Regions from separate parts of the Homo sapiens genome. Here regions 2 and 3 are each linked to region 1. The links come from fine-mapping of genetic effects on gene expression. A gene starts in region 1. Each other region holds a variant in brackets. All regions are shown on one strand. Distances are between the middles of the regions. Region 1 holds the start of UNC13B (unc-13 homolog B). Region 2 overlaps UNC13B (unc-13 homolog B). Region 3 overlaps UNC13B (unc-13 homolog B).

The links.
Region 2: its variant is fine-mapped to the expression of UNC13B in whole blood (TOPMed, PIP 0.95).
Region 3: its variant is fine-mapped to the expression of UNC13B in thyroid (GTEx, PIP above 0.99).

Annotation. Positions count from the first base shown.
Region 1 is chr9:35,156,099-35,166,664 of GRCh38, reverse strand. It overlaps UNC13B (unc-13 homolog B), which reads right to left and starts at 4,656. Exons shown (of 40, transcript NM_001371189.2): 1 at 4,360-4,656. The coding sequence starts at 4,381. It overlaps LOC124902147 (a long non-coding RNA gene), which reads left to right and starts at 10,231. Exons shown (of 2, transcript XR_007061469.1): 1 at 10,231-10,566. RefSeq lists a silencer at 4,661-4,790 and an enhancer at 8,297-8,850.
Region 2 is chr9:35,277,403-35,287,968 of GRCh38, reverse strand. All of the region lies in intron 7 of UNC13B (unc-13 homolog B), which reads right to left. Among named protein-coding and RNA genes, the nearest start is that of UNC13B, 120 kb to the right of the region's middle. The variant T/C (reference allele first, on the strand shown) is at 6,668.
Region 3 is chr9:35,265,549-35,276,114 of GRCh38, reverse strand. The region is part of intron 7 of UNC13B (unc-13 homolog B); the gene reads right to left. Among named protein-coding and RNA genes, the nearest start is that of UNC13B, 110 kb to the right of the region's middle. The variant A/G (reference allele first, on the strand shown) is at 6,293.

The DNA.
Region 1 (10,566 bases):
ATGAATTAAAAAGTTAACAATAGTTGGGTGTGGTGGTGTGTTCCTTGTAGTCCCAGCTACTCGTGATGCTGAGAAAAGACAGTCACTTGAGCCCAGGAGTTCAAATCCAGCCTAGGCAACATAGTGAGATCCCATCTTTAAAAAAAAAATTAAATTTAAAAAAAAAGTTAGCAATGGTATTGGCAGGTGGTAGGCCCATGGAAATTTTTTTCTTTTTTTGTACTTTTCTGCATTTTTTAAATTTTCTATAATTAGCAATGTATTACCATACACATATTTTTTTTGAGACAGGGTCTCACTTCGTCACCCAAGCTGGAGTACAGTGGCATGATCTTGGCTCACTGCAACCTTGCCTCCTGGGTTCAAGCAATTCTCATGCCTCAGCCTCCCAAGTAGCTAGGATTACAGGTGAGCACCACCACACCTGGCTAATTTTTGTATTTTTAGTAGAGATGGGGTTTCACCACGTTGGCCAGGCTGGTCTCAAACTCATGTCCTCAAGTGATCCACCTGTCTCAGCCTTCCAAAGTGCTGGGATTACAGGCAAGAGCCACCACGACTGGCCTGCATTTATTACTTTTGGGGGAAAAAAATCCATAGTTAAATTATCTAACTATGTTATAAACACTGGGAATAACTATGTTATAAACACTGGGAATTACAGAGAAATATTATGGAAAGGTCTGATTCTAAAAATGCTTATAATTGCTTGGAGAAACTTGGTCGTGAATACCAAGACAATAAAAGTCAAACAAAATCCTTAATTTAGTTTACTGCAGTTGTTCATGTGGCACTGGTCCCTATGGAAGCCCAAAAAAAGTATCCGTATTATAAGTAAAGCTGTGCCAAAACATGTTAAAGACTTATATTTCTTTATACTTATGGAAATATTTAAAGAAAGACTAAGTGAATTCTATAAAAGAGTGGTTTCTTAAAAATTCAAGTCTAGGCCGGGCGCAGTGGCTCACGCCTGTAATCCCAGCACTTTGGGAGGCCGAGGTGGGCAGATCACGAGGTCAGGAGTTTGAGACCAGCCTGGCCAACATGGTGAAACCCCGTCTCTACTAAAAATACAAAAAATTAGCCAGGCATGGTGGCAGGCGCCTGTAATCCCAGCTACCCCAGAGGCTAAGGCAGGAGAATCGCTTGAACCTGGGAGGCAGAAGTTGCAGTGAGCTGAGATCATGCCACTGCACTCCAGCCTGGGCAACAGAGACTCCATCTCAAAAAATTAAAAAAAAAAAAAAAAAAAAATTCAAGTCAATCACCCGCTGAATGGTCAATATCCCCTTTAGAATCCTTACCACTCATTCAATTTCTGTTTAGTGTCAAAAAATCTACATAGCCCATTCCATTTGTTCTGAACAACCCAACTGTTCTTCTTTATGTTAAGCTAAAATCTAATTTCCTGTCATTTTCAACCACTGATCCACACTTGTCCCAGTTCTGTCCTCTGGAATGACAACAAAAAAGGTGACATAACTTCTACAAGACAGTTTTTTAAACAGTCTTCATGTACTATCGTGATCCTCTTCCTCTTAAATCTTCTACAACTAAATTTCCCATATTCTTCAAATGGTTCGGTTCCTACATGTTTCATTATTCTAATCACTCCCCTCTTAAGATAACCTAGCTTCTCAATATGCTTCTTAGAAGGAAATACCACAGCTGAACACAAAATTCCAGATCTGATCTGACCAGTGCAATTACTTCCTTTGTCTGGGTCACCATAAGCACCACAATACAAGACCAGTTGCAGGCAGCATATGATTCATTTCCAAACTAGTGGCACTGTTCAGACCACAAGTGCTCCGAGGATTTAAAGGAAAAAGAGATCACTGTGGACTGGGGACCTGAAGAAGTTTTCAACAACAAAAAAAGTAGACTGTTAGCTGGGAAAGTAAGAATACATTTTAGATAGGCAGAAAATATGGAACGAGTATTTCAGGGGGCACAAGTGCAGAACAGAGCAGAGGCAGGAATAAACAAAGTTAGTGCTAGAGCAAAGTCTGCATAAGGATAGGCAAGAATAGAAGGCCACAAGTCTGGAGTCAGAGTATTGAGAGCCTTAAACCTGCAGGCAATAAGGCATGATTAAAGGGCAAGACAAAATAACTGACTTCTTGAATGAAATGTTTAGGAATGATTAATTCAATACCAGTTTGCCAATTTCTACATCAAGTTAACTACTTTTTGAACTCTGCATAGGAAGTTTCTAATTGATTCTACTCCAAGATGAATTGAAATTGAGTTGTAATAAATATCACTATATAGACTGCTTTCAGAATACAACATTCCTACTGCCAAAATACAACGCAAGGAATGTCATTTTAGAAAGATGTATTTTGTGCTGGGTGCAGTGGATTATGCCTCTAATCCCAGCACTTTGGAAGGCCAAGGCAGATGGATCACTTGAGGTCAGAAGTTCAAGACCAGCCTAGCCAACACAGTGAAACTCTGTCTCTACAAAAAATACAAAAATTAGCCGGGCCTGGTGGTTCACTCCTGTAATTCCAGCTGCTCGGGAGGCTGAGGCATGAGAATCACTTGAACCCAGGAGGTGGAGGTTGCAGTGAGCCAAGATCGCAGCACTGCACTCCAGCCTGGGTGACAGAATGAGACTCTGTCTCAAAAAAAGAAAAAGAAATAAAAATAAAGATGTATTTCAATTCATTTCTGTAAGTTTTCCCAAAATGAATACTTTGCCATTCAATATGAATATCTGCATATAAGGTACCTGTTTGTTTCAGTATTTAAAATCTTCTAGATCTCTATTCAAAAAGACAATGGCCTGCTGATCTCGTTTCTCCAGATTCAAAAAAGAAGAAACTTCACTAAAGTAACATTAAAAAGGAAAGAAGTTAGCTAAATAGCAGAATTTCTAGACAATGAAACCTGCCTGCTATTAAAACAAATGAAAACACCAGTAGTTATATAAATTCAGTTAAATAGGAATTTCTGATTCACGAGTGCTCCTGCCTAAAGAGTCTTTCATAAGGACCAGCTCTGTAATACAGTGTGGCCGTAGAGAATTAAACTGTCCAAGAGACACAGCAAAGTCCAACCTCTCCCAAATCCTGCTACTCAGCAGCAGGGATCTAAAGGAATAAATAGATTCCCAGCTGCTGAGAGAAAATGTCTTACTAAAAGCAAAGCAAAATTCTCATTAATGAAAAATCAACCATGAAAGAAGAAAAACTGTATATCTCATAATCCCGGGAAATGGCCAAATCCATTTTGGTTAATGCAGATTCAACAAAATAGTGGAAGAGAACAGAGCAAAGCAGTTTCATCTGCCAGTAGCTGGGGGAAACATCGTTATTGGAGAAATCACAAACAACAACAATGCTTCTAATCTGTAGAGCCAAAAGAAATATGAACTCTCCAGTAAAAGATATCAGGTAAAGGCTCTAGTTGATAAATGCTCTCTCATTCATAATCAAGACACATCAGATATGATAGGCTGTAACCTGAATTTCCCGAGATCAAATTCAATGGCTAATCCAAACCCTGTGTTTTCCTGATCAGATAATCTCTCTGAAGTCACAGTACTTGCATTCATTCAAAACCAGCATTAAGCTTCTACTACGTCAGACACCAGGAATACAAAAACTAATAAGAAACAGTCTCTACCCACATAGAACTTAGTTCGCGTACCATGCCTCATCTTAAACCCCAAAGCTCTTGCTTTAAGATATCTTCTTAGATGGGTCAAGTGTCCTCAGGGGAAAAGCAATAATGGCCCTTCACCTTGAGTTACTGTGAGGCAAGCTAAAATAAAAATAAAAATAAATCATACCTCTTATCCTCAAAAGCAGTCACCACATCCTCCCAAGTGGAACAGAAGAATAATCTTAGCCTATACTACCGGTTAGTGTTCAGGGAAGTGGCAGGGGACAAGACAAGCAATAGAAGGGATGTGACAGCTGTACCACTAACGCATTCAAAGTGTGATAAAAAGAACCTGCTACTAAGCATACTGTAGCGTTACGGTGCGAGGAGGAGGAAAAGAATGAGAGGCTGCCCACCATTCACAGGCACCAACCATCCGCGGTCTTCTAACTCGTCCACTCTCACTAGAGAACCCCAGTCACTGTTTAATAGGATCTGAGCCTGCAGTCCAACAACATTGTCACATGGCTACCAGAATGGAGAGCTAATCGTCCCTTGCAGGAGCTTGGGGGAAAACAAGAAAGTGGAAAGAACTCAAGTGATTGTTAAGTGATTGCCAAAATAATAGACCCCCAAAGCACGGACGGGATGTAAAGTTTGGGTGAGACGGTCACCGGACGTCCACTGGAAGGGTGCGGGGACCTCTACGCCGACACCCCGCCTCCCCGCCTCAGTCCGCGCACTCACCGCGCACGCAGAGCAGTGACATGGCCGAGGATCGGGCAAGCCTCTGCCGCGCCCCAGCCGCGCCGGACCGCTCCCTCTTTCCTCTCAGCAGGTGCCGCGACTGCTCTCGTTACCGGCCCCACGGGTCTGGCAGCTCCTCATGGTCCCGGTCGCAGGTAGCGTCCCGCCGCTGCCTCGGACCCGCCCCAAATCTCACCGTCTGAGCGAACTCCGGGTAGCGGTGAGTACCGGCCGGCAGGCTGGGGACTGGGCGCGGCACAGCGACGCCATCGCTGGGAGGTAGGAGCTGCCGGGACTCCCTCCCGTCATTCCACCCGGGATCCGCGCGAGCGCCTGGGCGGAGCCAACCCGTGGTGCCCCGCCCCCCAGCCAATTAACTCACGCCCAGTCCACCGACCCCGCCCCCCCCCGCGAGCACGTAGGAGGCGGGGTCCCCTTCCTCCTTTCTTTCTTGCGATCCTGAAGGAAGCTCCGCCCACTAATCAGGCTTACTGCAGGGAGCAAGGGGTTGACCCTCAGTTGTGTGACGCGAGAATGGAAGCCCTCTGTTCCTCCTGCATGAGCGGGGCTTCCACCCAAGAACAGATTCTTTTCATTGAAGGATTTCCACTGGACTTTCTTAGAGTCTAGCGGTCATAGCTGACAGCCTGTAATTTTAAGTTAACGAAGTCGCACCGCACAGCAAAGTTAAGTTTTGTTTAGCAACTAGGGCAAAAGACAAAACTGAGTGGGCATAAAGTATGTCTGGAGACCTCAGTTCTTATCTAGACCGTTTTTTATGCTCATCATTGTATCTCCAATGTCTGGAATAGTGCCTAGTGTATGGTAATCAGTCCGTAAATATTTACTGAATGAAGGATGGTAACCACGGAGGGATTGTGAGTGGAGATACCTCTGATCTTTGACAAATCTCCTATCCATGCTTGGTACCAACATGAGCTAACTCCATGGCTCAAACCAACAGGACAATTTGCTAAGGTCTAGGAGCACCCCCTCCAGAGAATCCCTGATCTCCCAAAATTTGGTCGAGATCTAAAGTTCATTTTGTTGTACAACTCCCTCTATTATTATTATTATTATTATTATTATTATTATTATTTTGGAGTTTTACTTGCTTCCAACAAGGAAGGCAAGTTTTCCTGCTTCCATGACGAGGGAAGGCAGGTAACTCTTTTATGGAGTTTGAGCTCACTTCCAACAGGGAAGATGAGGGGTTTTTTTCCTACTTCTGGGATGGTAGACAGCCGTTTTCAGCCTGAGACGCACCCCTAGGTAAGTAGCTGAATAGGGATTTTTGTCTTGGCTAAAGTTAACAACCAGCTGGTCTTAATTTCTGCTTACCATTAGAGTGCTCAGTGATCATATTGTTGGGTTTTTTTTTATTTTGTTTGTCTTTTTCCCATTGACCAACTCTACTTCACTTGGTCAAATCCAAGTGAGAATTCCAAATTATGGGTAACAAGGCCTATCTAATTTGAGTAAAATTCCTCACAGCTGCAAAAGAAAAAACAAACAGAAAACAAAAAACCATGTATTTGGTTTCTGTGTTTGCTTCCTGGTCTTAAAAATTAAACTGTTCTTAGGCCGGGCGCGGTGGCTCACACCTGTAATCCTAGCACTTTGGGAGGCCGAGGCGGGCGGATCACGAGGTCAGGAGTTCAAGGCCAGCCTGGCCAACATAGTGAAACCCTGTCTCTACTGAAAATACAAAAAAAATTAGCCGGGCATGGTGGCGGGTGCCTGTAATCCCAGCTACTCGGGAGGCTGAGGCAGGAGAATTGCTTGAACCAGGAGGCGCAGGTTGCAGTGAGTGGAGATCGAGCCATTGCACTCCAGCCTGAGCTACAGTGTGAGACTCTGTCTCAAATTAAAAAAAAAAAAAAAAAAAATTCAATTGTTCTTTTGTTTACTTTTCTTCCACCCTATACCTCCTTCACCCTTTGCCATCTGCATTACCAAAAAATCGAGAGAAGGCTTCTAATGACTTGAACCTCTTTAAAGAATTTAGGCCGGGCGCCATGGTTCACGCCTGTAATCCCAGCACTTTGGGAGGCCGAGGTGGGCGGATCACGAGGTCAGGAGTTCGAGACTCAGCCTCGCCAACATGATGAAACCCTGTCTCGACTAAAGATACAAAAAAAGTTAGCCAGGCATGGTGGCACGTGCCTGTAATCCCAGCTACTCAGGAGGCAGAGGCAGGAGAATCACTTGAACCTGGGAGGCGGAGGTTGCAGTGAGCTGAGATCGTGCCATTGCACTCCAGCCTGGGTGACAGGGCAAGACTCTATCTCAAAAAAAAAAAAAGAATTTAGAACAAAGGTGCCACTCACCCCCTTTTGGGGTGTTCTCTTGGCTTTGTGGGATTTCAAGAGTCATGGGCAGATTCTTCTTAGGTCTAAAGCTCTGTTTTCCTGTATTGCATGACCTGACCTTTTTGGCTTTGGGTGCCAGAGATGACCTTGCACTGTGAGAGGATTTGACCTTGGTGTGTATATTGTTGGAAAAGAGCTACAAAGTTACGGGTGGCTGAGCACAGTTTATAGGAAGTGGTTTTGGCTGTTTCCTTTTTTTTTTTTTTTTTTTTTTTTAATTTTCTCTCCTAGGAAGTCGTTGTTTAAGAATCCTAATTCTAGGCCAGGTGCGGTGGTTCACACCTGTAATCCCAGCACTTTGGGAGGCTGAGGCGGGCGGACCACTTGACCCCACAAGTTCAAGATTAGCCGGGCCTGGTGGTGTGCACCTGTAATCCCAGCTATTCGAAGGCTGAGGTAGGGCAATTGCTTGAACCAGGGAGGTGGAAGTTGCACTGTGCCGAGATCGTGCCACTGCACTCAGCCTGGGCGACAGAGCGAGACTCCATCTCAAAAAAAAAAAAAAATCCTAATTCTAGTTTGGAGATCCGTTCTGAAGGATCCTTTATATTGCTTTTTCTCCCAACATTAATCTCAATTCCGTTTGTCTGTGTGCATTTGCATGAGGAACTGAACTGTTGCTTTCATAGGTATATCAGAGACTGAGTTTTCTCAGCTCCAAAAAGAAAGGGCATTTGCCCCTCCCAACTGAAAGGTGCCCCTGAGTGACTGGGGACCTTGTGGGAGTGTCTGAAAGGTTGACCCCGAACGATGTGCAGTGGTCCTGCAGGGAAATCCCCAACAAAAATTAATTTAGGCCAGGTGCGGTCACACACACATAATCCTAGCATTTCAGGAGGCCGAGGCAGGCAGATCACTTGAGGTCATGAGTTCAAGACCAAGCCTGACAAACATAGCAAAACCGCATCTCTACTAATAATACAAAAATTAGCCAGGTGTAGTGGTGCGTGCCTGTAACCCCAGTTGCTTAGGAGACTGAGACGTAAGAATTGCCCGAACCCAGAAAGTGGAGGTTGCAGTGAACCAAGATTATGCCACTGCACTCCAGCCGGGGCAACAGAGTAAGACCTTGTCTCAAAAAAATATATATATATATATTTAATTTAAAAACTGGCTCATCCAGGAAACACATTGAAGGGCTGATCACCCAGTGTTGTGAGCCCTCTCAGAAGTCATAAACCTCTGGAGAGAGAAACTGAGACATGTAAGAGGGTGGAAACCATTCAGTGGTGGCACATTGTGGAGTCCTGCCCACAAGCAGCACGTGATGATCCACCACACAGAAACTCTAAGCCACAGCTCAGTTTCTCCTTTTAAGAAAAAAAGAAGTGGAAAACAAATAATCTAAGAATGAGAAGAAAACAAGGAGAATGACCCTCTTTTGAGCACTCTGTAGGTTTTATGGCACCTCTACTGCCAAAGTTTATGTAAAATGGAAAAAATATGGTCTTTGTGCACATTTACATTAAGAAAAAAGAGCCCTAAGGTCGACCTACTAATTATAGAGTTCCTAAGACCTCTTTTCTCTATTCTTTTCTGCCTGCTCTAAATCTGCCATTATTTTCTGTTAAGATAAAAACCACAGTTTAGATCCAACAAGTTCTTTTTGCAAACCGGTAAATTTGAATTTATCTCATAGCTAAAAGTTCTGAAGTAAAAGCTATAGGATGTGTGTGTGTGTGTATTTAAAAGGCTTTTATAATTTCTATAATTTTATGTTTAATTGGCCATTAAATCTGTTTCAATTTCCGTCTAGCACACCAGACTTTTTCTCTCCACACTTTATAATGTAAATTTTGCTGTTTGGAGTTCACCTGAGTTGTTTTCTTTAATATGCAAATTTAAGGCTATTTAGCTGACAACTGCCTAGGGTTGTGAAACAGGTTATCAAGAATCTGAAAGTAGCGGGGAGGGAGGAGGGGAAAAAAAGAATCTGAAAGCCTAAGGAAAAAAAACGTTTTTTATGAATCTATAAGAGGTACCTCTAGGCCAGGTGCAGTGGTTCACGCCTGTAATCCCAACACTCTGGGAGGCCGAGGTGGGCAGATCACCTAAGGTCAAGAGTTCGAGACCAGCCTGGACAACATGGTGAAACCTGTCTCTACTAAAAATACAAAAATAGCCAGGCGTGGTGGCACATGCCTGTAGTCCCAGCTACTCGGGAGGCCGAAGCAGAAGTATCACTTGAACCCAGCGGGTAGAAGTTGCAGTGAGCTGAGATCATGCCATTGCACTCCAGCCTGGGTGACAAGAGAAAAACTCTGTCTCAAAAAAAAAAAAAAAAAGATGTACCTCTATCAGCATGCCTAATGTGTCTATGTATTTATGTGTTGTGTACACAATGTTTCACTACTGAAAATATATAAAAGAGCTCTAATTAATTGGCGTAAGAAAATAAAAGTGCTTAAATCAAACACTTATTCAGGAAAAAATAAAATAGTCAAATGCTTTTTCAAGTTTACATAACTTAAGTAAAATCTTTACTAATGTTGATGAAAAAAATCAAACTCTGTAAAATATTTGAAGAGATTTATTCTAAGCCAAATATGAGTAACCATGGCCCATGACACAGCCCTCAGGAGGTCTTGAGAACATGAGCCCCAGGTAGTTGGGGTGCAGCTTGGTTTTATAAATTTTTGGGAGGCATGAGACATCAATCAAATACATTTAAGAAATACATTGGTTTGGTCCAGAAAGACGGAACAACTCAAAGGGGGGCTTCCAGACTATAGGTAAATTTAAACATTTTCTGGTTGAAAATTGGTTGAGTTTGTCTAAAGACCAGGGATCATAGAAAGGAAATATTTAGGTTAAGAAAAAACACTGTGGAGACCAAGGTTCTTTTGAAGTCTTATAGTGGCTGCCCTTAGAGAAAATAGATGACAAATATTTCCAATTCAGATCTTCAAAGGGTGCTAGACTTTTAGTTAATCTCTTTAGGATTGAGAGGGCCTGAAAGAAAAAGATTTAGCTATGTTAATAGAGATTCTTTATATATGCACATTTTACCCCACAAAGGACAGCTTTGCAGGCCATTTCAATAGATGGCAAAGAAACATGATTTAAGGTAAAATATTTTGTTTTGCTTCCTTGTCTCATAATGTTATGCCACAGTCAGGTTGGAAAGTAAGTCACAATATATAGGGTTAAGTAAAAACCATCTAATAATTTATTATTTGTAGCGCATGACTCCCCAGACCCCTTACACAGGAATTTGAGCAAGATATAAAATCAGAATTTAGTCCTCACTGAGCTAGGTTTAAAATTATTGTTACATTAATGTTAGAAATGTCTTAGGAATTGCCAGCATACATTTTTGTTTGTGTCAGGCCTCTGAGCCCAAGCCTGCACCTATACATCCAGAAGACCTGAGGAAGCTGAAGAACCACGAAAGAAGTGAAAATGGCCAGTTCCTGCCTTAACTGATGACATTAACTTGTGAAATTCCTTCTCCTGGACAATGAGTCTCAAAAGCTCCCCCACTGAGCACCTTGTGACCCCCACCCCTGCCCGCAAGAGGACAACCCCCTTTGACTGTAATTTTCCACTACCTACCCAAATCCTATAAAATTGCCCCAACCCTAACTCCCTTTGCTAACTCTCTTTTCCGACTCACCCCGCCTGCACCCAGGTGATTAAAAAGCTTTATTGCTCACACAAAGCCTGTTTGGTGGTCTCTTCACACGGACGCACTTGACATTTGGTGCCGAAGACCCAGGACAGGGAGACTCCTTCGGAAGACAGGTCCCCTGTCCTCACCATCACTCCATGAGGAGATCCACCTAAGACCTCGGGTCCTCAGACCAGCTCAAGGAATACCTTACCAACTTCAAAT
Region 2 (10,566 bases), 120 kb before region 1:
TCATTCACCGAGAAAAAAATACAACATGGGGGCAGGCTGAAGAAGATGATTAATTCAGGGTTAGGTATATTGACTCTGAGATATCTATGGAACATCTCAAATGAACATGGCCAGTAGACAGCCAGATATACGGGTGTGGAGCTCAGGAAAGAGATGTGGAACAGACTTGGAAGTTTTCAGACTATATGTTCCAATAAGGGCAGGGATTTTTCTGCTTTGTTCTTTTGCTGTATCCTCAGCACCTGATAATGCATGGCACAATGTAAAAGTTCAACCAATATTTACAAATGAGTATAAATAAAAATGCAAGTAAATAAAAACACTAAGGCAGAGTGCAGGCCAAGAAAAAAAGACTATATGAAGTGGGGGAACCCTAAGGAACAATCACATTTAAAAAGCAGACAGAAATTTTAAAAAGAAGAAGAAAAAGAGGAAGAGAAGGAGGAGGAGGAAGAGGAACAATTGACAATCCAAAGCGTCAGTGAGGCTGTGGAGCAACTGGAACTCTTGTACATTGTTAGCGAGAATGCACAGTGAAGTCGGGCATGGTGGCTCTTGCCTGTAATCCCAGCACTTTGGGAGGTTGAGGTGGGCAGATCACCTGAGGTCAGGAGTTCGAGACTAGCCTGGCCAACATGGTGAAACCTGTCTCTACTAAAAATACAAAAATTAGCCAGGCATGGCGATGGGCACCTGTAATCCCAGCTACTCGGGAGACTGAGGCAGGAGAATCACTTGAACCCAGGAGCTGGTTGTTGCAGTGAGCCGTGATCATGCCAATGCACTCCAGCCTAGGCAACAGATTAAGACTCCAACTCAAAAAAAAAAAAGAAAGAAAGAAAGAAAGAAAAAGAAATGAAACTAACTCTAAAGGAAAGATAATTTATGATAACTTATAACAAGTTCAAAAACAGGCAAAACCAAAAAGTTAGCTGGGCATGGTGGTGCAGGCTTGTGGTCCCAGCTACATGGGAGGCTGAGGCAGGACAACTCACAGAATTCAACGAAACATTTTACTTATGTTTACCCGTCTACGGTAGAGGATATTACAAAGGACATAGTTGAACAGCCACATGAAGAAATACACAGAACAAGGTCTGGAAGAGTCCTGGGCACAGGAGCTTCTGCCCTGTGGATTTGCGATGCACCACCCTCCCAGCACACGGATGTGTTTGCCAACACAGAGGCTCCAAAAATCCACAGTTTTGGGATTTTTATGGAGGCTTTATCATATAGACACAATCTATTATAAGTAGTATTAGTGGTATTATTTTTTTGTAGAAACAGGGCCTCACTATGTTGTCCAGGCTGGTCTCAAGCTTCTGGAGTCATCCTACTGCTTCAGCCTCCCAAAGTGCTGGGATTACAGACAGGAGCCACTGTGCCTGACCTGGCATGATCAATTATTAACTCAATCTCCAGTTCCTCTCCCTTTCCTGAAGGAAAGGGAATGGGGCTAAAATTTCCAGGCTTCTTGGGAGGCCAAGGTGGGTGGATCATTTGAGGTCAGGAGTTCGAGACCAGCCTGGCCAACATAGTGAAACCTCTTCTCTACTAAAAATACAAAAATTAGCCAAGCATGGTGGCAGGCACCTGTAATCCCAGCTACTTGGGAGGCTAAGGCAGGAGAATCACTTGAACTTGGGAGGTGGAGGTTGCAGTGAGCCAAGATCACAGCCACTGCACTCCAGCCTGGGTGACAGAGTGAAACTCCATCTCAAAAAAAAAAAAAAAAAAAAAAAGTTCCAAGCTTCCAAACATGGCTTGGTCTGTCTGATAACTGGTTCCTATGTGGAAGCCCATCAAGAGTCCCTCATTAGAACAACAGACATTCCTAGTATCCATAAAATTCTAAGAGATTAGGAGCTCTGTGTCAGGAACCAGGGACAAAGACCAAAATATATGTTTCTTATTATAAAATCACAGTATCACAGCCCCCAGTGGTAATGGCATTGTATTTACAGTGTTAAAAATTCTCTAGAAATACGGGAGTATAGCAAGTACACCTCATGTCCAAAACCACCAAACTCCCAATACTTTGAAATCAGAAACCACAGGACCATTCTTAAAATTCCTCTTTATTTCCCATGTCCAATCAGTCAACAAACTTAGTAGTTAATTCTGCTGAAATCTCCTTCCTTTTGTGCTTTCCTTGAAGATTTAACTATCCTTATCAAGAAACTTATTACCTTATGAATTATTAGAGATTACAGAATTATTCTGAATTATTACAGATATTTGACTGGACTTTTTAAAAATTTGTTTTTAGAAACCAGGTCTTGCCCTGTCACCCATGCTGGAGTGCAGTGACAATCATGGCTCATTGCTGCCTCAACCAATCCTCCTACCCTAGCCTCCTGAGAAGCTGGGACTACAGGCACGTGCCATCACACTCGACTAATTTTTGTTTTCTGTAGAGATGGGGTCTCACCATGTTGCCCAGGCTGGTCTCAAACTCCCAAGCTCAAGCAATCCACCTGCCTCAGGCTCCCAAAGTGCTGGGATTACAGGAGTGAACCATGTGCCTGGCCATCTTTTAATTTTAATAATTACTTGAGGCTCTTGTTTAGAATGTAAATTTTAAACTCTACTCACAGAGATTCTAATTCAAAGGGCTTTTCAACAAGAAACTTGGTGACTCTCATGCCAATGATTCTTGAATTACATTGCGAAAAACACAGCTATAGAATTTCCTATATGAAAAAGCCACAGTCTCCCAGACAGAAGAATAATACTCCTGTGCTAATGGAGGAAGAAGGCAGCCAGACCCACTATCCTACTGAGCCTGAAGAAAAGTTCAATGTCATCATACAGTGAAAAAATTCTAGCAGTTCTAAGACGAAAGTACATCCTCTTTCCTAGAAGGTAAACCTCTGCACTTATCCCCATCCCCTAGGCTGGCTGACTAGGCTACAGCAACACACTCACAGGCTGCTTCTTCTGCACATTTTATCTTGTTTCTAGTGGAAAATGTAAGAAATCAGAAATAGTCACATTAAAAAGTAAGGTCTACAATTATCAAACAAAACACCCCCAGGCAACTGTTACACCACCCATTAGTAGTCCAGTACTGGCTAATGTTTCCATGACATTAAAATGATGGAATACTTAAGCCCCAGACTCCATGTGAACAGCCATCTGTCTAGGCAATGACAGGAACTCACCTATCAACTACTAAATTGTAGTAATTACCAGGTATCTCATAAGGACCATAAACTCAAACACTAGAAATTATTCTCTTCCCTTTTTCTAGACAGTTGATTCGGTAAGTACTGTAGAACTTCTCTTTCTACGGAAGACAGTAGTAAAGAACCTATAATTAAGGAAAACACTTCAAATCTAACATAGGAGAATAACAAAAAACTATTCACCAACGTTACTTGTGATATAGATAGAAAAATCCAAAATGAAATACAAGCAAATCAAGCCTAGCATTATAGTAAAAGAATAATTCACCATAACCAAGTAGGTTATATTTTAGAAAGGCAAAGATGATTTATTAATAGAAACTGATTAATGCATTCATTATATTAATAAGTCAAAGAAAAATATCCATGAATTGGTTAAGTACTATTAATGCATTTTGAAATGTTCAACATCCACTAATATTTTTAAATATGCAAGCTCTACTGAAGTATAAGATAGAGAAAAATATACAAATCATAACCGTACTGCTCAACGTTTTTGTTTTTTTGGTTTTTTTGAAACAGAATCTTGCTCTGTCAACCAGGCTGGAGTGCAGTGACATGATCTCAGCTCACTGTAACCTCTGCCTCCCGGGTTCAGGCAATTCTCCTGCCTCAGCCTCCCAAGTAGCTGGACTACAGGCTACAGTCGCATGCCACCACGCCTGGCTAATTTTTGTATTTTTAGTAGAGATGGGATTTCACCATGTTGGCCAGGCTTGTCTCAAACTCCTGACCTCAAGTGATCCCCCGGCCTCAGCCTCCCAAAGTTCTGGGATTACAGGCGTGAAACACCACGCCCGGCCTGTACTGCTCAATGAATACTGTGAACACACTCAGGTAACCAGCACACAGATCAAGAAACAGCATTCCCAGGACCCAGCAAAACTCTTCCTACTCCTTTTCAGTAGCTACCAGCTTTTGAACTAGCTGTTCACGCTGCCTATCACACTCTTTCCCCAGAGAGCCACGTTAATTCCCTCACCTATTTCAACTCTATTGAAATGTCACCTTCTCATGTGGCCAATACTCAGAATTTTATTTAAAATTGCAACTCAACTCCAATTCTAGCATTACCAACTGCCTTTCACTCTTTTATTGGTTCACTCTCTAACATCCTATATTATTTCCTTATTATGTTAATTGTCTATTTCTTCCCACCCAGGATCTTTGTTTTGCTCTCTGATATATCCTAAACACCTAGAACAAAACCTGGAATGTAAGTGTCAAAAAAATGTTTGTAGAAGAAAGTAACAAAAGGAAAAGAGGAGAGGGGGTGAAGAGGTGGGTGGGGGGCACGGTGTTGTTGAGTGGGCCAGTGAGGCTAAATGTGAAAATAAGTACCAGCAGCAGAAATATAAATAGGTAAAATATTTTTATACAATTTGATAGTGTCTAACAAAATTATAAATGTATATATTCTTTAACCCAATGATTCCACTTATAGAAATGCATTTATTCAACTAATATTTATTGGGCAAAGGTACTATGGATACACAGATAAGCATATTAATAAATCAAAGGAAAATACCTATGAACAATGGGTATACTCATGAAATGTATGGCCTAAAGAAGGGAACAAATATTAATCAAATAATCATACAAACTGAGAAAGTGCCATAGAGGAAAAATACATACTGTGTAATAGAGGATGGGAGATTCATTTGAACATGTTTACAAAAAAAAGTGTATAAAGTTGCTCACTATAGTATTGTGTTTTAGCAGCAAAAACTGGGGAACAATCCAAATGTCTACAAATTGGGGAAAAAATTTTAAATTATAGTATACTCAAACTATGGAATATGCCTGGCATCAATATCATCAATCTTCAATGTGCAACTACAATTTACAGGAAATACAAAGGACAGAAGAGTGTGTTAAGCTAAACTTATAGGAATGTTTTGAGCAAAATCGGGAATGTAAAAAACTCTGTAAGTCAAACAAAACCATATAGTCAAATGGCCTGATTTCTTCAATAAACAAATTGTAAGGAAAAAAAAGCAAGAGACGGAGGGGGAACCCATAGAATAAAAAATAATTGTAAGACATGATCAGGCATGGTGGCTCACACCTGTAATCCCATCACTTTGGGAGACTGAGGCAGGCAGATCACCTGAGGTCAGGAGTTCGAGACCAGCCTGGCCAACATGGTGAAATCCCATCTCTACTAAAAATACAAAAAAAATTATCCGGGTGTGGTGGCATGTGCCTGTAGTCCTAGCTACTCAGGAGGCTAAAGCAGGAGAATCTCTTGATCCCAGGAGGCAGAGGTTGCAGTGAGCCGAGATCACAGCCACTGCACTCCAGCCTGGGTGACAGAGTGAGACTATCCCAAAAACAAAACAAAACAAAACAAACAAAAAAAATTGTAAGACATATCAAAAAGAGAAAACAAGAAAACAAGCAAAAACAAACTCTAGTGTTTAAAGATACATACTTGGGTGACAACATATAAAGAACAAGAAGAGAGTAATTATTATAAAAGTTGGGATAGTAGGTACTTTTAGGGAAGAGGGGGTTGTGATTGGGAAGAGGCATATGGAGGCTTTCTGGGGTGGTTGGCAAAGGTCTATCTTTTACCTACCTTATACTAATACATTTAAACATTTGTTTTATAAAGTTGTCTATATATCTGTGTTATATTCTACCATTAAAAAGATTTTTAATGCAGCAAACTGCTCACATCACTATAATCACTGCTATCTAATTGTTTCATTCCTCTGCATAAAGTCATCAAAGGTTCCCCCTTGCCTTCAAGATAAAATATAAACAGCTTGCTATGGCATTCAAGCCCTTTGTGATATGAGTTCTCTGTGTCTCTCTGGCCTCATCTGACCCTTCCCCACTCTTCTTATTCCCTCCACCGAAGCCATCAAGAATTTTCAACTTGCAGTACCCCAAGGTACCTTAAGTCATGCTTTTTCATCTTAGTGTCCTTGTACTATGAACTCTTTTCTCCTTCTTCACTTAACTGTCTGCTACTCATCCTTTAAGACTCAATTTATGCCAAGGATCTGGGGAGAGGTAGAAATGAATAGGTAAACTACAGAAGATTTTTAGGGCAGCGTAACTATTCTATACTATAAGGGTGGATATGTGTCATCACACATTTGTCAAAATCCATAGAATGTACAATACAAAGAGAGAACCATAACGTAAACTACAGACTTTGTTTGAGATATCATTTCCTCTGGGAAGCAGTTCCTAACCATCCCAAATTTGTATTACATTCTCTTTCTCTGTATTCCTTGAATATCAAGTACTTACGTTCCCATTCACTTATCAAATGGTACTACTTATGTTTCTTCCTCTCTGGACTTGAGCTCCCTGAGGTCAGGGACTTTCATTCCTCTCTCTCTCTTTTTTTTTTTTTTGAGACAGTCTCTCACTCCCAGGCTCGAGTGCAGTGGTGTGATCTCAGCTCACTGCAACATCTGCCCCTAGCGTTCAAGCAATTCTCCTACCTCTGCCTCTCGAGTAGC[T/C]GCGATTACAGGAAAGTGCCACCATGCCCAGCTAATTTTTTTTTTTTTTTTTTGAGATAGAGTCTTGCTCTGTCACCAGGCTGGAGTGCAGTGGCGTGATCTCGGCTCACTGCAACCTCCGTCTCCCAGGTTCAAGCAATTCCCCTGCCTCAGCCTCCTGAGTAGCTGGGACTACAGGCGCATGCCACCACGCCCAGCTAATTTTTTGTATTTTTTAGTAGAGACAGGGTTTCACCATGTTGGTCAGGATGGTCTCGATCTCCTGACCTCGTGATCCACCCGCCTCAGCCTCCCAATGAAACCTATAACAAGAAGCCATCAGATGACCACGCTTTTATGGTAATAACTGACCTTTATGCATATACAACACACACTGTACTCAGCATAGACACCTAAGTGTTGCTAGCAAATGAAACTTTGATACATTAATCTGACATTTTTAACATGGTTAATTGTGTATAATTGTAACTGAACATAAATTATAATAAGTTGATGTAATGACTGCAATTAACCACCTCAAATTTCTTTTTAGAGGAAGCCAGGATAGAAATAAATAAATGAGTCAGAAGACTACAATTAACATTATTTTTATCAGCCAAACCATATTGTAATAGTTTCTCTCTTTTCTTTTTAGTTTGCCAGCACCTATAATTAGCATCAATATCAGCTGCTTCCACTGATACCACATATCTAGTGTAAAACTCATCACCCACCCTTACTGACAGTCCTAGACCCATTGCACTGCCTTACCACTAAAATAATACTCCCTGTGCACTCACTCTAAGGAGTCCATAACTAGTATATTTTCGTGTCTCTCAGAGTCTTAGTCCTAGACTGGAGGTACCAGAAGCTATACCCTGTCTGATCCTTTACTTCCCACTCCCCAATGGGATAAGGTAATAGGAAAAAGAATGTTCCAGCCAGTAAGAGATACCTTGACCAGGACATGGGGAGTGGGGTGAGATGGAGTATGTTACCTTTTGAACCCTTTCTTCCTACTTTTCATTTATCCTACTAGGAATAATCTCTCCTTTCAAACTTTACATTGCAAATAACTTCTTCAAAAGTCATCTCGAAACTCATCTTTTCTAGAATGCCTTCCTGAACAAACTTTATACCATTCTCAACCATTTGCTTCTTCTTCTGTCACCTCAGCACTTTCCTCTCTACTTCCACAATATTATTATTGAAAATGAAATCAAAGGATTACCCAAAATTAACATGTAAGCAGAAAGACAGAAGTTAAACCAGAGGAAGAACTTTGACCAGGACACTAAACAAAAGGCCCAGTTATCAAGACCTCTTTTTGGGGAATCAGAAAATCAGACGGCCCAGATGGTAGAGGAGAAAAAGACAGGATAAGCAGGCAAGCAGAAAGGAGACTCAGTGAATCATGGCACAGGAACTGTTTGCCTATGGCTATCCTCAGTGTGCCATCTCTGCAATATAATTTTGTAGGAAGGGTGACTATTCCTAAAAGCTAAGGAAAGATGAAGCACTCTCATACTTTGTAAGTGGGAATATAAATAGTACAGCCTCCATAGTGGGCAATTCTGTAACATATTTCAAAATTCAAATGCATTGTTAAATGTACAATGCTTTGGCCCAGCAATCGCACTTTTAGCTATTCATCCAACAGATATATTCACACATGTATAAAATTATGTATATAAAATATCAATTTCAGTATTGTAACTGCAAATACTGGAAGCAACTTAAATGTACATTAATAGCCATTCTAATCCTAGTATATACCCAAAAGAACTGAAAACAGCTATTCAAATACTTGTACACTGTTGTTCATAGCAGCACTATTCACAATAGCCAAAAGTGGTTTAAAAAAAAACATATTTCATCAACTATGAATGGATAAACAAAATATGGTATATCTGTACAATGAATTAGTATTCAGCCATAAGATGGGATAAAGGACTGATACATGCCACAATGGTGAATGCACCTCAAAAACATTATGCTGCTAAATAAACCAGTCACAAAAGGCCTAATACTATATGATTCCATTTATGTGAAATATCGAGAATGGGTAAATCCATAGAGACAGAAAGTAGATCAGTGGTTGCCAGCGGTGAGGGGTGGAGAGAATGGAGAGTGACCGTTTAATGGGTATGAGGTCTCCTTTGAGGGGGATAAAAATGTTTTGGAACTAGACAGGTAATGGTTCTACAATTTATGAATGTACTAAATGTCACTAAATTATATATTTAAAATGGTTTATTTTATGCTACATGAGTTTCACCTCAATTTTTAAAATGTCCATTATTATGAACCTGTTCCCTACATGTAGTCATACATATTATATGATAAAAAGCAAGACACTAAACACAGTTCATAGCATACTACCATTCATGGGGGTGGGGGAATATATATTTATATGTTTGTGAATGCATAAACTCTTTCTAGAGAAATCCACAGTAAATGGCAGTAGTGGTTACCTCTGGGTAGAAACTGTATGGCTAAAGGACAGGGTACAGAAAAAAAGCTGTTTTTCATAGCATACATTTTTACATCGAATTTTGTACCTTATGCACATGTTTCCTTTCAAAAAATAAAATAAAATGGGGAAAATATCCTACTTATAAGATAAACAAGAATCAGCTACCTATGGAACTCCAGAATGATTAGGATGCTTTAATGCAAGAGCCAATATAGAAGGCTCAGACAAAAAAAAAAAGTGGCAAAAAGGTAGAAGAAGGTGGCAAAAGAAGTATATGACCTGGGGACCTATGCCTTCTGGGATTTTAAAAATGAGAAGGAGAAATAGAGGACATTGAAGAAGTGGATGAATCTGCAGAGTGGAGGCCAGCTGGTCATGCAATCCTATTTTCCTGCAGGGCATGTGGTCCTGGGTAAATAAGTAAAAAGTAATCATAAGGCTCTTCTGCTTCCAGTGTTCACAGAAACAGGTCTTCCATCACAGCAACAAAATTTTAGCCACCAAAATCTTAAGCGGCTCAAAACTTTCAATTCTACGACACATTTAAACAGAGAGAAGGTGATAGATGATAATGAGGACTCTACGTATCTGGAGTAAAAGAAAGAAAAGGCTCCCAAAGAAATGAATCTGCCAAACTGGGCGAGCCCTGTACATCTTGGCTTTTTGAAGGCCAACAACAACAAGAGGATTCATTTCCTCTGGCAGATTAGCAAGTACAACTATGACATCACTGTACTCTAAGCCAGTGTGTCCTGCATCTTTGTAATCCTCTCCTCATTCTTTTCATTTATACTACTGTGAACAATCTCTCATTTCAATGAACACATCTCGATTAGTTCTTTCAAAAGTAATTTCTAAACATATGTTTCTGGAAAGCCTTCTTGAACAAACTTTATGCCATTCTTAACCATTTATTTATTCCTTTGCCACCTCGGGACTTTCCTTCTTTCCATGGTATTACTGTGTACCCATTGAGGGTACTTTCCATGGTATTACTGTGTACCCATTGAGGGTACTTTCCATGGTATTACTGTGTACACAATGTGAATATGTAATTATAAATTACATATTCAAGTTGCTGTCTTTGTATATTTACCTCTTCGGACTTGAGTCTAGGTTGTGATTCAGATCTTTTGATTGTTTTTGCATTCTCCCATTAATTCTTTCCTAGCCTCTGCAAATATACTCCCTGGTTTACATAGCTACTCACTAAGAACAAGAACCCCCCGAGAAAATATAAAAGCCTTTGCAAAGGAGAAAATGAAAAGCTCTATAATGGATAAGCTCCTTTGTACTTCAGGGCTCTGGATTTCTTTTCTGTAATGCTGAAGTCTCAAAGCTTCACAGGAAAAATTAGGAAAAGTATGACAGTTCTCTGTCTGGCATCTGCTTCAATGTCATTTCTACTAGGGATACCCCTGAGCATTCTAATGCTTATAAATTA
Region 3 (10,566 bases), 110 kb before region 1:
AGGCTGGTCTCGAACTCCTGAGCTCAAACAACCTGCCCACTTCAGCCTCCCAAAGTGCTGGGATTACAGGCACAAGCCATTGCACCTAGCCCCTGTGGCTTTTAAATAAATCCTTAGAACAGAGTGAGAACCCAAAAAAGACACTGATCAAGAAGTATTCAAATCTCAACTATAAGTTAGCTGTGGACATTTTATTGTAGTATTTGGTACTCTAAAACCAATTCAGGCCGGGCACAGTGGCTCACTGTAATCCCAGCATTTTGGGAGGCTGAGGCAGGCAGATCATTTGATGTCAGGAGTTCAAGACCAGCCTAGTCAACATTGTGAAACGCTGTCTCTATTAAAACTACAAAAATTAGCCAGGTGTGGTTGCAGGCGCCTGTAATCCCAGCTACTCAGGAGGTTGAGGAAGGGGAATCACTTAAACCCAGGAGGCGGAGGTCACAGTGAGCCGAGATCACACCACTACGCTCCAACCTGGGCAACAAAGCGAGACTCCATCTCAGAATAAATGAATGAGTAAATAAAACCAATTCAAAGGATGGAAAGAATAATCAAAAGATCTCTCTAATGTATATACCTGTATATTCGAACAGCAGTAAAACCTCTTGAATGATTCACAAGAAAATGCTAACGATGATTACCTCTGGGGAGAAGACCCAAGTGGCTGGGGAATAGGAACAGGAGGGAGACTTTTTACTATACTCCCTTTAATATTTTAAAACTCCTATACAAAGTATATTACCTATTCAATAAATGAATTAATTTTAATTAAAACAAAGGGCAGTAGCCACGTAAGAAAAGCACATATTTCTGAATGGCAAATTATATCCCATGAGATTTTTGCCACCACAGGGTGGTGGTATAGCGGAAAGAACACAGACATTTGAGTCAAGCTGACCAAAGTTTTAACTCTAGTTTACCCATTTCCTAGAAACAAGTGATGCAGAAAAAGATAACTGGTTGGGAGACTTGGGAGAAAAAAAGACTCTGAGCTGCTCTTCACAATACCATGCAAAGTGGCCATCAAGAATTCATAACTTTATCCAGCCAAGGTAAAGAAAAGAAAAAAAAAGAATTCAAAACTAACAAGAAAACCAATACATTCTACAACTTTAAATCACAAATGACTTTGAGAGTGCAGAATTTTAACCTAGAGGACACTGAACAAAAAGCTCCAAACCCATGATATCTATTGAAGTATGATTTCACAGTATGACAAAAAATGATTGGGAAAGTTATGGAGCTGGACATCTCTTTTATGGGGGAGCACTGCAATTTGGATGCAGCCAAAGGCCAGCTGGTGTAGGGACTAAATAGCCCACTCACAGGGCCCTGAATTTAAGTGAACAGCATACATATTATATTATGGCTTCAAGAAGTGGATACATTTATAATTAAACCCAAGGTAGCAATGTCCCAGAGGAACCTGGGCATCAGGAGAGAGTTCAATAATCTCTCAGGTCTCCCAGGATTATCTTTGGCATTTGTCCCCCAAATTTCATTGTGGGGCATTCTTTATGAAGGCTGTCAGAAGTCCTAGCAGGCCATCCTAATGTCTTCAAAGGGCCTGCCACAGAATAAGAACATGTCATTATAAGGGGATACAGAGGACAGATTTTCTGAGTTCTGTCCCTTCAAAATTCAATTATGGTGAGAGATTCTGGTTCTCTTTAAGGCATTATTAGGAACATGGATTAATCTACTATATGCTCTTGAATCTGTAAGACATGCAAATTCTTGACTGGGTGTGGTGGCTCACACCTGTAATCACAGCAGTTTGGGAGGCTAAGGCAGAGGATAGCTTGAGGCCAGGAGTTTGAGACCAGCCTGGGCAACATAGTGAGACCCCCATTTCTACAAAAAAAGAAAAGAAAAGAATGCTAGTACTAGTTGAGAGTGCGAGGCCACAAAGCTCTCTAAGAGATATATCTCCTGATAGGCAGGGGTTATCAGTATGGTGGCTACTGTCATACGGAAAATAAGTAATACAGATCCAGATTTCTAACCAGGCTTCTTTTTTACTTGGAGCTGTGCGAGGTAGTTAGGTCTGATGGTCAGGAAGCACTAGATCCTCTCAAGATGGTGTTCTCTGGCATGAAATGGTGGAGTGATAGTCCCATACTCTACATGATCAAGCTTTGACACAGTAATTGCCACTTGGGTCAGCTCCCTCTGGCTGTGGTGGGTCCAGAATAAAAGAAAGGTATCCTGGACCAAAAACGAGTGGACAACATTTCCTGTTCTACTTAAAGTCTATAAGACCCAACTACGAAAGCAAGTCCTAGCCTCCATTGAGAGGCGGCCAACACAGCCCACAGGCCTAAAGCTAGTCTTGTTTCTGGTAGGTGTGAAAATGAGACTAAGAGAAGCACTGGCAGTACCTGCCTAGCGTTTTTTTTGTGGTTGATTTTAGTTGGGGATTATACCATCATCACTTGTAGAGCAGGCAGGAACCTAATCGTCCAAGTGGGGAATACCTAGTTACATATACAGAATGACCCATTTCTCTGCCTCCCCTAACAGGTAGAATATTAGAAATAAGACAGGTAATAGAGTGGCAGTGAACAGTTTTAGATGGAGACCAAGAATAATAAGAGGCTATAAGAGGAGTATTTGAATATGGTGCACACTAGGAATATGAATATCAGGTCTAATGGCTGAAAACTAGTGGAAAGCATTGAAAACCTACTGCTTGCCATCTAAGAATCAACAAATATCAACGCAATGGACACTAGGACCAGGACATTTGACAGTAAGAGTTGAAAATGAGGAAAGGTAAGTAATTTTATTAAACATGCCTCTTTTGGATATGCTGGTAAAAGAAATTCTTCTGAAGTTTGTGGTGGTCAAATAATTTGTCACAACCCAGCAACTAAGCAGTATATTACTGACAATGCTTCTGAATGTTTGGTCACTTGTTATTCATGATATGACTCACATCCAACTGTTCTGAACTGATTCATTCTTCAAGAAAATTTTTAAACAATATGTTGGGTTATGCCGTTTTACTAATTTAAAAGAATGATTCGTACTCAGGACATTTTGGTTTATGATTTGTATAGATCACTAATTATAGGCAATACTGTAAGAAAACCAGTGAAACAAACCCTTAATAGATAACCAGAAAAATCTCTTTGAAACTCCAAGGTGGGCTATATCTCAAGCAAAAGTTCAAGCTATCTTTTAGATCATAATACATATAGAAATAACATAGACCCCAGAAGCTTTTTGTTTCAGACACGGTAAGTAGTTAAGGGAGGCTTTAGGGATATCATTAATAAAAGGTACACTGCAACTCTAAAAGCTACGTGGAATTTTCAGTGAAGGAATCACTGGTATTGTTGAACTAAACTATGTCAATCTCAACAATAAATTATCATTCAACTAAGTCTCAAATTCAAACTAAAAAAGTGAATCTACAATAACTTGCTTCTGTATTGTCAGGCTTGGGTTATTTTAAAATATTTATCCCTTTTAAAATTATTATAAAACAAATGCATGTTCTTTGGAGGAAATCTGGAAAGTACAATAAAGTATAAAGAAAAAATAAAACAGGCCGGGCGTGGTGGCTCACGCCTGTAATCCCAACACTTTGGGAGGCCGAGGTGGGTAGATCACTTGAGGTCAGGAGTTCGAGGCCAGCCTGGCCAACATGGTGAAACCCTGTCTCTACTAAAAATACAAAAATTAGCCACGTGTGGTGGTAGGTGCCTGTAATCCCAGCTACTCGAGAGGCTGAGGCAGGAGAATTGCTTGAACCTAGGAGGCAAAGGTTGCAGTGACCCAAGATTCTGCCACTGCACTCCAGCCTGGACGACAGAGTGAGACTCCATCTCAAAAAAAAAAAACAAAAACAAAAAAAAACAAAAAAAACAAAATGAAACAACCAAAAAAAAAAACAAAAAAATTATATTTCCTTGTGGTTTTTCTACGTACATATGTATATAATTTATTTCTTAGATAACTGAGATCATCTTAATCAGGTTAGGATCCTATTTTTTAGAACTTATACACATAAATATTTCCTCTATCTTAAAAATTTATGTAAAAGTATACAATTCCATCATATGGAAATACCATAATTATCCATTCTTCCTTTCTTTGTAATTTTTCACTATTATAAATAAAACCTATACATAAATCTTCCTTTGAACCTCTAGTTATTTTCCTTGAATACTTCCTAGAAGTAAAATCACTGAGTTAGAAAGGTTGTACTAATTTACACACCCTAGCAGTTTCACCACGTTGGCCAGGATGGTTTTGATGTAAGTAGTCATCTCACCAAACCTTCGTCACATGCTAAATCACTTTTGATTCAATTCTCAATTGTAGCCAGTGATACTGTCATTAATACAGTGGGTGGGCAAGGCAGACATGTATAAAAATTGAAAAGAGCAGAAAGTTGTTGAATTTAGTAGTAGTCAGACTGGTATGGCAACATGGTGTGTTGCTACATTCTTTGACAAGATATAGGTAGAAATATTATCCTTATTGAAGAGTGAAGTGTAAATACCTTAGAAACTTTAGGTATGTTTGGAAAAGGAACAGACCAGTTTATCCCTCTAGCTCAACTTCTGACCATTTAGCCTTGTGGCTAAATGTTTATATTATACTGATACCATTTGTTGCAAGATTTGTATCAAATATGCAAATCAGATTGCACAGCCTCAGAACAGCTCTATAAATTGAGGAGCAATAAGACCTGCAAAAGTAAACATGATGTACTGAGGCTCAAGCATGCAAAAAGCCACATGCGTCTCCTGGCATCTGCTACCAACTCCCAGCTGAGGCCACATCTGAAGAACATATCCTAAAAGAAAGTATATCCACTTTCTAATGTGAATATATAAAATCTAATCTGCTAAAAGGAAGGAAAGTAATGGGAACATGTGGTGGTAGTAAGAATGATTTTAACAAAGATGCAGAGGCAATTTAATGGGGGGAGAAATGTCCTTTTTTTTTTTTTTTTTTTTGAAATGGAGTCTCACTCTGTCATCCAGGCTGGAGTGCAGTGGCGCAATCTCGGCTCACTAAAACCTCCACCTCCCAGGTTCAAGCCATTCTCCTGTCTCAGCCTCCTGAGTAGCTGAGACTACAGGTGTACACCACCACACCCAGCTAACTTTTGTATTTTTAGTAGAGATGGGGTTTCACCATGTTGGCCAGGATGGTCTCGATCTCCTGACCTCGTGATCCACCTGCCTCGGCCTCCCAGAGTGCTGGGATTACAGGCATGAGCCACCGTGCCTGGCCGAAAATGCCTTTTTAACAAATGGTCTTAGGACAACTGGAAATCCACATGCAAAAAGACGATCTTCACTCAAATCACACCACATACAAATGCAATGTGTGAACCTTGATTAACTTCTACAATGGTGCAAAAAGGACAAGAAAGTTTGGGGGAAAACTGGGGATATTTGAATATAGGATAGATACTGATGACATTATAAAATTTTGTTAAATTTTTGGTGTGCTGGTGGTTTTGTAATCTTATGTGAGTTTATATTCTAAGGTTAAAAAAAAACTTTCAAGAATCTTAAAGACTGTTGTCTTATTGTTGATAATAGCACTGGGTATATTAATCCTAAAATTTGTTTGTGTACATTACAGGACACAGCAAATGAATAAATAATTTGATGTTCTTGGGAACAGAGGTTCTCACTGGAAGATATACATGTATATGTGTGTGTATATACACATGTGTGTATATATGTGTATATATATGTGCATAATACACAAACACATACATACACACACACACACACACACACATATATATACATAGAGAGAGAGAGAATATATGAAAGGAGACCAGGAAAACCTTGTGATGAGGGTGTTAATTGGTGATACCAGTATGAAGAACATAGTGTGTTCCCTAGTTCCATCCAAAGAGCCAAGAAGCAAGAGCCCTCCTGTAGCAACGAGCAAAACTAGTGCCAAGATCTTGATTTTTAAATACCATTCCCCACTAAAAATAACCAGCCTCATTGGAGAAATGACTTATTCTAGGACTGAGAAGGCAAAGTACAAGATGAGCTTGGAATATTTTGTACTAAGGAAGGAAGGAAGTGGTCAAAGAATGATAGGGCCATGTCAAAAGGACACAGGATCTAGTTAAAAGGAACACCCATAGGCCAAATTCAGGACAATTTGAGCATCAAAGAAAATGGCAGAACAGGATTACAAAACACTGGGTTCAAAAAAAAAAATCATGTGTCCATAGTGATACTCATTTTAAAAGAGGGGTGGGGGTATGCGAAGAAGGAAAGCTCTTCTTTACAAAAGACTG[A/G]CAACTGTTCAGTATAATAACAGTGTGACACAATAAGAAATAAATATTTGGTCTCTGCCTGCAGTTCTTGGCACAGAGCTTCTAAAACCCTTTTAACTCCTTGAGTGATAGGGATAAGACTGTCTTTTGTTATTCATAGTAAGCCCCTTTCAATCATACCTGAGTTAATGCTAATGTGATAACTCCTGGAGGATGGAGGCTAGTTGCCAAAAGAACCAACTTTGTGATTAGAGGGTTAGAACTTTCAGTCCCACCCCACAAACTCCAGGGAGAAAAGAGGGGCTGAAGGTTGAGCCAATTAATCATCAATGATCAATGATTTAACCAATCATACTTACATAATGATGTGTCCGTGAAAACCCCAGCCAAAGGGGTTTAGAGAGTTTCCACACTGGTGAACAAAAATGCACCCACAGGGAGAGTAGTGCACCCAAAACTCCACAGGGACAGAAGTTCCTGTGCTCAGACCCTTCTGGACTTCCTCCAATGTATCATTTCATCTGGCTATTTGTTTGTATCCTTTAAAATATCCTTTTAATCAATCGGTAATACCAAATTAACTGTTTTCCTGGGTTCTGTGAGCCATCCTAGCAAATTATTGAACCTGAGGAGGGGCTTGTGGGAACTCCAGTTTATAGCCAGTTGGTCAGAAGTTCAGGCAGTAACCTGGGATTTATGATTGGTCTCTAAAGTGGGAGGCAGTCTTGTGGGACTGAGCCCTTAACCTGTAGGGTCTGCACTAACTCCACATCTCTAGTGTCAGAATTAAGTCATGAGACACTCAGTTGATGTTAGCAGAGAATTGCTTGGTATGGAAAACATACTTGGTGTCAGAATTGTGCAAGTATAGAGAAACCATTTTTTCCTTTTAAAAAAGAATGACAGAATTAGAAAATCATCATTTTGCAACCACAGTGTAATAATAAATTTAGGCAATGATCATAATACATCCTAAAACTAATGCATGGAAGTTTATTTAAATAAAAGCAGTATACACACAGTCTCAAAGTATCACTGCCACTACACACTTAGTTACAAAGGAGAAAAATATCTTTGCAACAAAGAGATCTGGAAAACATCATCTGAACTAATAATTAACATCAGCATCACAAATAAAGGGACAAATTGACATCAGCTGTGCAGTAACCTGAATCTAATTACGAGGAAATAATCAGACAAATCCAGATTTTAGGAAATTTTTTCCGAGACAGAGTCTCGCTCTGTCGCCCAGGCTGGAGTACAGTGGTGCAATCTTGGCTCACCGCAACCTCCGTCTCACGGGTTCAAGCAATTCTTCTGCCTCAGCCTCCCGAGTAGCTAGGATTACAGGTGCCCGCCACCACACCTGGCTAATTTTTTGTATTTTTAGTATAGATGGGGTTTCACTGTGTTAGCCAGGATGGTCTCGATCTCTTGACCTCATGATCTGCCTGCCTCAGCCTCCCAAAGTGCTGGGATTACAGGCGTGAGCCACTGTGCCCAACCAGGAAATTTTGTTAAGACAATTTAACTAGATCCTTGTCAGCTGTCTTGTAGAATGTCTATGTCAATGTGGGACCCAGCAACCTTTGGGAGAGCAATTGTTGGTGAAGAGAGGTCACTCCTTCCCCTCTCCACCTCCTGGGGAGGGGAAAAACGAATGTTTTTCTGCTCTGAATCCAAGTGAGGAGGAGCTTCATAATTCACAAAGGTTAGGGATGCCTACAAGAATGGGAGTGGAGCCAGACAGGTTGGATGTCTGCTTGGACAGGAGACTTGCTGATGTGAACTGTGTACTTTTCTAAGCAGCCAAAAAGAACAGAGGAGGCAGAGCTGGGAGACAGAGAAGAGAATGGAACTGCTTGCCTATATCCTTTGTTTCTCAGGGCAAGAATAATTGAGTTCCCATGGGTCATGTGAATTCTGTGGAATGTGGGTGAGTCCCAGTTATCTTGATATTTCCCCATTCAAGAAGCCTCTAAGTAACAGGATACCAGCAGCAACAAGCTAAGTACATCTTTTGGTAGTAGTCAATAGCAGGACAAAAGAAGTTGAACCAGAGCAATCACTCACATAAGACCCCAGGGAGTCCCCAAAAGTAACCTTTGGAGACTCACACCTGCACCCCATTGAGAAAGCCAGCACTCACCTACACCTCAGAGGGCAGGAACAACCAAGCAATATCAGCCAGAGAGGCAACAACCACCAACAAAGAGATCAATATGTCTCCTAGGAAAACTAATGTTATCACTCTTAGAAGACATATTCATCCTTCAGTCTCAACCTAAGTCTTGCCCCTGTCCCATGAAGACTGCTCTGAATACTGACACAGCATGTGAATAAGATACTGCAGTGTTTCTGCACATGTAACCCAGAACTTAAAGCATAATAATTTTTAAAAAGACACTGCAGTGAAGTGACTGCCCATGGCATGGATGTGTCTTTGTGAACTGGCATTCATCAAGATAGTCCAGGTCTCCTCCAGTCCTTAGTCACTCGGACACAGAGAACACTTCTGAGAGAGACATTTCTTATTCCTGCCCAAGTGGTTCCAATAGGACCAGAGGCTCACTTTCCCACTTCTAGAAAGCCCAAGACTCATTTTGGAGCAAGTGCAACTTGGAGCATAGGAATCTCTTTGTGATGGTCCATCTGCCTAAGACACAACACCTAGCCATCCCCTCTTTGACTCCTGCTGCTTCACCAGTGCCCTAACACAGAAAGCAGACACAAGGTCCCAATGTATCTCCCCTGGTCACTTTCTTTCTTTCTCTCCTCATTCTCTTGCATTTCTCTCCTCTCATTCAAGTCAAAAGAAGCTCTTCTTAGAAATTGGGAGATTCAGGTGAAACTCTGCTCCCTCTCATAATATTTGTCCAGAACACTTTGCATACTCTCCTAAAATCTTAGGCTTTGGGAAGTTAAAACCACAAAGATCACTTCTTCTGCTCTCTGCCTTACCTTTCTTTCAAGAAATGGGCACAAGTCAGCCTAAATGCTAGAAATGGTAATAAAATGGGGGATAAAAAACAGATGGACATAATAAATCACAATAATTACCCTACAACATTTTAAAATAAATATATCAGTTACCAAATGAGACAAAAACTTCACAGGATAAAAGTGAATGCAGAATGTTGTTACTGAATGCTAAAAGAGAAAGGCTTGACCTGAGACAAAGGGGAAAAGCAGATAGTTTGCCTCAATACTTTTAAAGAATCCCATCACCTTTAAGAGTATATCCAAATAACTGGGGCTAGAGTAACTCCTTTTATTTTTTTACTTTTTAAACTTATTTATTTTTAAATAGAGACAGGGTCTCGCTATGTTGCCCAGGCTGGTTTCAAACTGCTGGCCTCAAGTGATTCTCCTGCCTTGGCCTCCCAAAGTGCTGGGATTACAGGCATGAGCCACCACTTCCAGCCACAGTAACTCTTGTATCAAAGGGAGAGTTTCTTTAGAGCAGTAGCCCAGTGATTTCTGAAAATACTTTGGAAACATCTTATAAATGGCCGCAGAGGATTGATCCTAACACACTGGGTAGTGGAGGGGCCATCCACATGAAGGAATCTGAGGACTAGGAAGTAATAGAGTCATATGATGTGCTACAGCTGGAAAAGTCCTAGAGATCATCTAGAACACCACCTCCATTTATTACTTCAAGAAACTGAAGTTAACAGTGGGATGACTTCCAAAGTCACAGAGAGAGAGCAGCAAACCCAGGTTAAGAACAAGGACTCAACTGGGCTTGGTGGCTCAACGCCTATAATCCCAGCACTTTTGGAGACCAAGCCAGGCAGATCACTTGAGGTCAGGAGTTCAAGACCAGCCTGGCCAACAAAAATACAAAAATTAGCCGGGTGTGATGACACATGACTGTGGTCCCAGCTACTCGGAGGCTGAGGCAGGAGAATCACTTGAACCAGGGAGACGGAGGTTGCCGTGAGCCAAGATCGTGTCACTGCACTCCAGTCTGGGTGACAGAGTGAGAGAGACTCCATCGCAAAAAAAGGAAAAAGAATGAACAAGAACTCAATTACTTTTCTTAATAATAACTTTGTTTTTAATTGTAGAGATGGGGGTCTCACTATGTTGCTTGGACTAGTCTTGAACTTCAGCCTTAAGCCATCCTCCCGCTGCAGCCTCCCAAAATGCTGAAATTACAAGCATGAGCCACTGTGCCTGGCCAATAATAACTTTTAACTATTAAAAAAAATTTAAGGCCACAATCCCATATCCTAGAGACAAATTTGGTTAATATTTTGATCATTCTTTTCCTAGTAATTTTTCTTATA